Homo sapiens: one gene and its partner. The protein of the gene in region 2 purifies or fractionates together with the protein of the main gene of each other region. This does not show direct contact. Each region holds a gene or a part of one and is shown on either strand. Other genes may lie near its edges.

The links. Proteins that work in one complex are often made in the same cells at the same time.
Region 1: the proteins of IQCN (region 2) and KDM5C purify together in Homo sapiens (affinity purification with mass spectrometry; 2 studies listed by BioGRID and IntAct, with this or other methods). This does not show direct contact.

The regions. Positions count from the first base shown.
Region 1 is NC_000023.11:53,218,708-53,222,207, reverse strand, and holds part of KDM5C (lysine-specific demethylase 5C), read left to right. Parts: intron 1-1,291; coding exon 1,292-1,369; intron 1,370-3,500. UniProt on the Homo sapiens protein: Histone demethylase that specifically demethylates 'Lys-4' of histone H3, thereby playing a central role in histone code. Does not demethylate histone H3 'Lys-9', H3 'Lys-27', H3 'Lys-36', H3 'Lys-79' or H4 'Lys-20'.
Region 2 is NC_000019.10:18,266,726-18,272,231, forward strand, and holds part of IQCN (IQ domain-containing protein N), read right to left. Parts: intron 2,867-5,506; exon of another isoform or gene 2,863-2,866; 5' UTR 2,754-2,862; coding exon 2,741-2,753; intron 841-2,740; exon of another isoform or gene 802-840; coding exon 1-801. UniProt on the Homo sapiens protein: Essential for spermiogenesis and fertilization. May be required for manchette assembly in elongating spermatids.

The DNA.
Region 1 (3,500 bases), on a different chromosome or scaffold from region 2:
TGTCTCTCCCCCCCGCCCACGTGTATGCATGTATGTATGAACATTGATGTCTGGTGTAGTGCAAAGGCCTTGGATCAGAGGTCAGAAGACGTGGGTTCTTGGCCCCACCACTAACTCAGCATGTAATTTTGGAAATTTCACTTTTTTTCTCTGAGCCTCACTTTCCCCATTTATAAAATGAGAACATTGGTTTAGGTTACTTTAGGTTGATTTCACCACCCCAGCAGGAGCCAGGGCTCTGGGAAGGAGAGGTCTGCATAGGAGGTTGGAAAGGGGTGTTGGAGAGGGGGTTCTTCACAGCTGACCTTTGGGCAGGACACAGCAAGCTCCAACTTGGCAGAGCAGAGTGTCTCCCACTTTCATGATCTTTCCCTGACTTCCCTCCCCAAATCCTCCCATTCTTTGCCACCACAGTCAGGCATCCCAGCACTTACCCCCACCCCCTGGGGCTTCCTCCCCTGCCTCTTCCTGTACCAGGCAGGTGTATGAGAGAGGATCTACAGGAAGCCTTCCAGACTGGGTGAGTGATACACATACTTGCTCCCTGTTCCTTGCTCTTCCCTGCAGTGTCTATCTCAGGCCCTTTAAACTGAGAGAACAAACATTAAAGGCCCAAACCTTTACGTCCTGCCACAATCGGACCTGAGCTACCCTGCATGTGTATTGTGAGGTGTGGTCAGCCTTAGATGTCAGGTCATAACGGTGACTCCTTTGAATAACATTTTCATTTGAAAACTAGTTTTAATTTTCCATATTGGTCTGGCAAGGAAGCCAGGGCTAGAGTTCATATTCCCACCTCACAGATGAGAAAACAGGTTCAGAAAGCTAAAATCTCATAGCTAGTAAGTAGCGGATCTAGAACATGAACCCATATCTTCTGACTCTAGATCCTGTGTGCTTTCCAGTACTCCCAGGCCTGTGTGTCCTACAGCACGTGCCTAGGGGATAAGGAATTAATGTGGGTGTGGAGAAGGTTTAGGGTCAACAAAACAGAGGCTCCATCTCTTAATTTCTTGAAATCCTGGCACTGTACTGTTGGGTGGGACTCAGGAGAAGTTTCCTAGGGCATGTGCATGGGGCCTTGGGTGCAGACTTGAGGGGCTGCTAGACTCTTGTGAGTTCTGGGGGGAGGTGGGGGTGGGTGGTTGGGTAGGATGTTTGCAGGTTAAAGGGTCTGGAGTGGCTAGAGGTTTGGGAAGGTGCCAGTGGGATTCCGAGCTGCTTTTGGTGACTTCCGGTCTTACACTATGCTGAGATAACTCAAGTCCCTTTCCCCTCTCTACCCTCTCAGGACTGGCAGCCACCCTTTGCTGTGGAAGTGGACAACTTCAGGTTTACCCCCCGAATCCAGAGGCTGAATGAGCTAGAGGTGAGAAGACTAGGAGCTGGTGGTGGGGTTGGGAGAATGTATACCTGAGTTCTAATCCCACTTCCCTTATAGTTTCTCTGGCTGAGGTACTTTACCTAGCTAGGCCTTTATTCTCTCTTCTGTGAAATTGCATTACTTTAGTGTGCCCAGGGCGTGGAAGAAGCTTTAGAGCTCTAAATATAACCAAGAGCCAGGGGCATTTAGCATTTGTGATTTGATAGCCCAAAGGCTGGGGACATATATCCCTTTCTCACAAAGGTTTGCTACTTCTGAAACTCCCCTGTAAACTAGCCTACCCTAGCTGAGTCAACAAAAAGGAATTATGGAACTGGCTGATACCCCTTCTTCCTTGGCCAGCTGAATGTGGCTTCATATATCCAATTCATCCACAGCCCTGTGCTTTCTACTTTGCTTCCATGGGTGCTTGGTAAGGTGGGAGTTTGGGTAGATGGGCAGAACAACACAAGAACTGGGCTCTGTGGAGGCTGGAATGGTTAGAGACTTGGCCAGGGGTCAGGCAGGTAGGATTTTCCTTCTCCCTTTTGTTCTGTACAGGAAGTCCAGGCCCTTTTCATGGACAGGTGGGGTTTTTCCTGCTTGAGAATGCCCTGGGGTAGTGAGATTAGGTTCCCTAAAGCCAGTTCCACGTAAGATCCTGGAGTTTTCCATGGCAGCTCTAGGTTAGGCATATGTTGCCACTCCCTCCCCCATTATTATGTACCCACAAATCTTAATAGATGTCCAAGGGGTGGGGCATTAGGCCCAGGCCCAGCTGAATACTTATACCCTAAAAGTTCACTTGTGTTCTAGACCAGAGTTCCTCAGCCTCGGCACTATTAACATTTTGGGAAGCTAAGGTGGGAGGATTGCTTGAGCTCAGGAGTTCAAGACCAGTTTGGGCAACATAGCAAGACCCCATCTCAGAAAAGAAAAATATATCTTGTCAGGTTTATAGGGGTACAGCTTGGGCAAGATGTTGCCTAGCATGACACAAGGGCAGGTTTTCTGTAGAGGGAGTGCTGACTAATAAGAAGGAGCAGGGATGAGGCCAACTTCAGAAAGCTAAGGGGCTGAGGTTGAAGGAGCACTTCCTTGCCCTTTGAGAGTTCTCACAGCCAAGGAACTGTAGGTTGTTTCTTTCTACAAATAGACCTTAGTTTTTCTCAACTATGAAATGGAAAGAGCTGTCTTTGTTCCCCCTAATGGGATCAGGGCAAGGTAGTGAATGGTAATGACTATCTAGTTCTTCCAAGAACCAGGCTCTCTGACTGGAGTGAGGAGGTTGTAGACTTGGGGCCTATGGGAGTCCTTCTTGGTTACTGAGATTTCAGGGAAGCATCATACATATCTTGTTTCTAGTCTCCTTGGCCCACATTGGGTCCTGGGTTGGCCAGGTGCTAGTGCTACTCTGATATACCATCTCTTAGTTCTAGGCCATTCTGTCTATAGTTATAGCATGCACTTTCACCCTTTAGCCACCATGGAACAAGTTTGGTGGTACATAAGGAGGTGCATGTGCCTTTTTGGAGCTTGCTTTCTCTGAAACATGCCTAGAGCTTAGATATAATTCTGAAATCTGCAGAGGATCTTCACTGGTCCCCTCATTAAGTCTACCCCTCTGGGGTAAGTGGACTGTGCAGTTATTTTCCTTTTATAATTATTAGTAAAAGGAAAAAGGAGTCCACAGTGGAACTGATTTGCTCAAGGCAGCATAGCAAATCAGTAGCAGAGGGAGAGCCAAAGCTCAAATTATTTGGCACCAAAATATCTTGATGCTTGCTGTGTGTCCTAACTCCTCTGAGCCTCTGTTTCCTCATCTGTATAGGAGATGATAATACTCACATGACCTTGTCAGGGAGATTAGAGGACATATCTAAAGCTTTTGGCAGTTGTGACCCTCTCTATTGGGACCTTGGGCTTCTCTGATTGACTGGAAGGTGACAAATGAGAGAGAGGTGGCTGGGTGCAGTGGTGCAGTGGCTTGTGCCTGTGATCCCAGCTCTTTGGGAGGCCGAAGTGGATGGATTGCTTGAGCTTAGGAGTTTGAGACCAGCCTGGTAACATGGTGAAACTTCATTGCTACAAAAAATACAAAATTAGCCGGGCGTGGTGGCGTGCGCCTATAGTTCCA
Region 2 (5,506 bases):
CGAGGCAGGTGCTTCTGATGGTTCTGGTCAGCAGGCATGGCTGGCATTTTGCGTCCAGACTCACTGGGCAGGGAAATCTGATGGTGACCGTCTGGTGTGGCAGGAAGGCCAGCCCCCGGACTCTGGCAGCATGAGGACCCTGCACACAGGGCTCTGGGGTACCCTGAGCTGCTGGGGGCTGCAGGAGGGGGGACGACTGGGGTCTGCAGAGGACCAGATTGTCACAGGAAGGGAACTGGGTCTCCTTGTTCACCATGATGGGCGGGGACAGAAGGCGGTTCTCTTCCGGATGCTGGAAGCGCACCTGCTGTGGGGCGTGATAAGGTATGTCCCCCTCCTCCGCCCTCGTTTTCTTTACCAACGACTTGCTGGAGTGAAGGATGTGTCTCTTGTTGAAGCGCCGCCAGGCCTCCTGGATGGCCTTGGCCGCCATCATCTGGGAAATCAGCTTCTGCCGGAGCCAATAGCCCCTCCAGTTGGCTTGGATGAGCGTGGCTGCACGGGCGTGCATCATGTCCATCTCGTCTACCAGGATGTTCTTGAAGGCCTGGCTCTCGACCACAGCCCGGAGGCGTGGGACGCGGCGGGACGCCGTCTTGCCTTCGGCAGGCTGTTGCGGAAGATGCTCCTTGGACTTGAGGCCCTCGTGCTGGGGCTGTGGAGGCGCTTTCTCCATTTTGTCCAGGAGACTGGGGTGAGCGGGGGCTGGAGGATGCACCGCCCACTGGGTGACAACTGGCTCGTGAACTGTAGCTAGGCGGCCGGCTGCATTGCCTTGATTACCGGACAGGTCAGCTCTGCCTGTGGGGGCGGCAGGGGGTGGTCAGGGTGTAGCAGGTCCTGCAAACAAGAGGTCTCCTGGCTGGGGTGGACACTGGCCCCCCAGGCCCAGATCTTGTTCCTGGCACGTTGCGATCTTCCGCCTCCCTTTTTCCATCCCTCCCTCTCCCAAGTGGTCTTTGCCATCCTTATATCCACCTCTCATCACCCTACGGCCACTTCATCTTGGCACACAGTGTATGACACCTGAATGCCCGACCACTTACCTGCTTTTCTTTTTTCTTTTCTTTTTTTTTTTTTTTTTGAGACAGAGTTTTGCTCTTGTTGCCCAGGCTGGAGTGCAATGCTGTGATCTTGGCTCACCACAACCTCCGCCTCCTGGGTTCAAGCGATTCTCCTGCCTCAGCCTCCCGAGTAGCTGGGATTACAGGTGCACGCCACCATGCCTGGCTGGCTACTTTTCTGTATTTTTAGTAAAGACGGGGTTTCACCATGTTGGCCAGGCTGGTCTCGAACTCCCGACCTCGGGTGATCCACCTGACTCAGCCTCCCAAAGTGCTGGGATTACAGGTGTGAGCCACCGCGCCCGGCCTGCTTTTCAAACTTTATCTTGGATGTACCCTGGGTTTAGCACTGATCACAATGTTTTGGAAATTTCCTGTTTGCCTCTGTGTGTGTGTGTGTGTGTGTGTGTGTGTGTGTGTGTGTGTGTTTGAAAAAGAGAGAGAGAGAAGTGTGGTGGGGGAGATTATTTGCCTCTCCCCATTGATTGTGAATCCTAGAAGACAGAGTCATTTCTGTGTCCCCATCTCAGTCATAGAGCTTGGTTCCAAGCTGTGAATGGGTAGGTATTGGGTGGGGGGGGCATCTTGACTGATAAATGGTGAGTGGATTGGAAGTTGGATGGACAGATAGATACAGGACTAGATACTGAATGGATGAATCAGTCGATGAGTGAATGGTAGATGGGTTGGAAAGACAGATGAAGGTTTGGATGAATAGGTAAATAAAGCTGATGAATAAAGTGTTAAAGGCAAATTGGCCCGGCACGGTGGCTCATGTCTGTCATTCCAGCACTTTGGGAGGCCAAGGTGGGCAGATTGCTTGGGGTCAGGAGTTCGAGGCCAGCCGGGCCAACATGGTGAAACCCGTCTCTACTAAAAATACAGAAAAGTAGGCCAGGCACAGTGGCTCATGCCTGTAATCCCAGCACTTTGGGAGGCCGAGGTGAGCGGATCACAAGGTCAGGAGTTTGAGACCAGCCTGGCTAACGTGGTGAAACCCCATCTCTACTGAAAATACAAAAATTAGCTCGGCATGGTGGCTCGTGCCTGTAATCCCAGCTACTCAGGAGGCTGAGGCAGGAGAATTGTTTGAACCCGGTAGGCAGAGGTTGCAGTAAGCCGAGATCGCGCCACCTCACTCCAGCCTGGGTGACAGAGCAAGACTCTGTCTCAAAAAAAAAAAAAAAAAAAAGAGCCAGGTATGGTGGCATGAGCCTGTAGTCCCAGCTAGTCGGGAGGCTGAGGCAGGAGCATTGCTTGAACCCGGGAGGAGGAGGTTGCAGTGAGCCAAGATCACGCCATCACACTCCAGCCTGGGCAACAGAAGTGAAACTCCGTGTCAAATAAAAGGAAAGAAGGAAGGAAGCAAGGGAGGGAGGGAAATTAAAGAGAGCTGGAAAGACTGGTGAAGAGATAACCCAACAGGAGGTAGACTGATGGGTGGATGGGTGGGTGGGTGGATTAGGGGATGGGTAGGTAAATGGCATATGGAAGGATGGAAAGAAGGAAGAAAAAGTGGTGACTGTGGCTTTCAGAAGTAACTAGGATGCAGAGAGAGCTGGGACACTGTCAAGCCACCCTGATGCATAGCCTGGAGCACAGCACACTTGTTTGGCAGAAGCCCCTCTCTTCAGGTTGGACTAGCCAGACCCCTTGCCCATAGACCATCTTCTTACCTTGAAGGGTCATAGATTTGGAGGAGTAGCAGGAGAAGAAGGTGCAATCTCAGAAGCCAGCCTGCAAGAGGAGGCAGCCTTCAGCCTTTCATCCATGCAATATGCAGCAACACTGCCCTGGGCTGGCTCAAGACCAACACAAAAAGAAATGTTAAAAGCAAAAATGCTAAATTCTAAAATTTCTAAATTCTAAAAAAGCTAAATTCTAAAAAAAAAAAAAAATGTGCAAAGATGAGGAAATTTATTCCAGTGTTATTTTGTAGCTAGAAATCAAACAAAACAACTGGAAATAACCAAAACAGTGATTGGTAGAGGTTCTGCTACAAATGAATACAGAAGTATGTTCAAGGATGTTTAACACTGTATTGTTTAGCAGAGGAAAAACTGGAAGAAACCAAAATTATCAATGGAGACAGGCTTAAATTAATCATACAAGGGCATGATATCCAGGCATCAGAAATGGCGTCCAGGCTGAGCACAGTGGTTCTTGCCTGCAATCCCAGCACTTTGGGAGGCCAAGATGGGAGGATCACTTGAGGACAGAAGTTTGAGACCAGCCTGGGAAACTAAGCAAGAACTGTCTCTTAAAAAAAAAAAAAAAAAAAAAAAAAAATTGGCCAGGCGTGGCTCACGCCTGTAATTCCAGCACTCTGGGAGGCCGAGGAGGGTGGATCACCTGAGGTCAGGAGTTCGAGACCAGCCTGGCCAACATGGTAAAACCCCGTCTCTACTAAAAATACAAGAAATTAGCCAGGCATAGTGGTTGACGCCTGTAATTCCAGCTACTCAGGAGGCTGAGGCAGGAGAATATCTTGAACCTGGGAGGCAGAGATTTCAGTGAGCTGAGATCGTGCCATTGTACTCCATCTGGGGCAACAAGAGCAAAACTGTCTCAAAAAAAAAAAAAAAATAGGCCGGGCACAGTGGCTCACGTCTGTAACCCCAGCAATTTGGAAGGCCAAGGTGGGTGGGTCACTTGAGGCCAGGAGTTCCAGACCAGCCTGGGCAACATGGTAAAACCCGTCTCTACTAAAAACATAAAAATTAGCCAGTCATGGTGACATGCACCTGTAGTCCCAGCTACTCGGGAGGCTGAGACAGGAGGATCATTTGAGGCCAGGAGGTTGAGACTGCAGTAAGCTACGATGGCACCACTGCACTCGAGCCTGAGCGACAGAATGAGACCCTATCTCTTTTTTGTTTTTAAAACAGAGTCCCACCCTTTTGCCCAGGCTGGAGTGCAGCGTCACAATCTCGGCTCACTGCAACCTCTGCTTCCCAGGTTCAAGTGATTCTTGTGCCTCAGTCTCCCAAGTAGCTGGGATGACAAGTGTAAGCCACGGTGCCTGGCTGAGACCCTGTCTCAAAAAAAAAAAAAAAAAGATTGTGATTAAAGAGTAAGTATAAGATAAAAGGTAACCTGGGAGGCCAGGCATGGTGGCTCACACCTGTCATCCCAGCACTTCGGGAGGCCAAGGCAGGTGGATCACAAGGTCAGGAGTTCGAGAACAGCCTGGCCAACATGGTGAAACCCCGTCTCTACTAAAAATACAAAACTTAGCCAGGCACAGTGGCATGCACCTGTAATCCCAGCTACTTCAGAGGCTGAAGCAGGAGAATCACTTGAACCCGAGAGATGGAGATTGCAGTGAGCCGAGATCACGCAACTGCACTCCAGCCTGGGCGACAGAGTGAGACTCTGTCTCAAAAAAAAAAAAAAAAAACCAGGCGCAGTGGCTCACGCCTGTAATCCCAGTGCTTTGGGAGGCCGAGGTGGGTGGCTCACGTGAGGTCAGGAGTTCAAGACCAGCCTGGCCAACATGGTGAAACTCTGTCTCTACTAAAAATACAAAAATTAGCCAGGTATGATGGCAGGTGCCTGTAATCCCAGCTACTTAGGAGGCTGAGGCGGGAGAATCTCTTGAACCCAGTAGGCAAAGGTTGCAGTGAGCTGAGATCATACCATTGCACACCAGCCTGGGTGACTGAGCGAAACTCAGTTCAAAAAAAAAAAAAAAAGATAAAAGGAAACTCTATGTGGTACTTTAGGGCTGAGGGAGTATCCCCAAAAAAGGGGCAAATTTGGAGAGCATTCAGACTTCCTTGGAGAAAGTATGGTCCCGCCTAACAAGTTAACGGAGATAATTGCTGGATCGGCCAAGCCAGAGCTGGTCTGGAGTTGCAAAACAAGCAAAAGGCCCACCCTCCAGGGTGCAGATGTGGGAACAGGTTATCAACAGTTGGTGCTCTGGATGTGCACTGGAAACCTAAGTGTTGCTGGGGCAGGAGGCCTTCAATGTGTATGGGCCACCGTGGGGGCTCTGTTCGTTTATTATCATTTATTTATTTATGATTTTTGAGACAGAGTCTCACTCTGTCCCCCAGGCTGGAGTGCAGCGGCACTCAGCATCTTGGCTCACTGCAACCTCCGCCTCCTGGGTTCAAGCGATTCTCCTGCCTCAGCCTCCCGAGTAGCTGGGATTACAGGCATGAATCCCACCACACCCAGCTAATTTTGTTTGTTTTGTTTTGTTTTGTTTTTGGAGGGACGGGGTTTCACCATGTTGGCCAGGCTGGTCTCAAACTCCTGATCTCAGGTGATTCGCCTGCCTCGGCCTCCCAAAGTGCTGGGATTACAGGCGTGAGCCACCGCGCCTGGCCTTTTTTTTTTTCTCTCTCTCTTTTGAGTTTTGTTCTTGTCGCCCAGGCTGGAGTGCAGTGGCGCGATCTCCTTTCACTGCAACCTCTACCTCTCGGTTTCCAGCG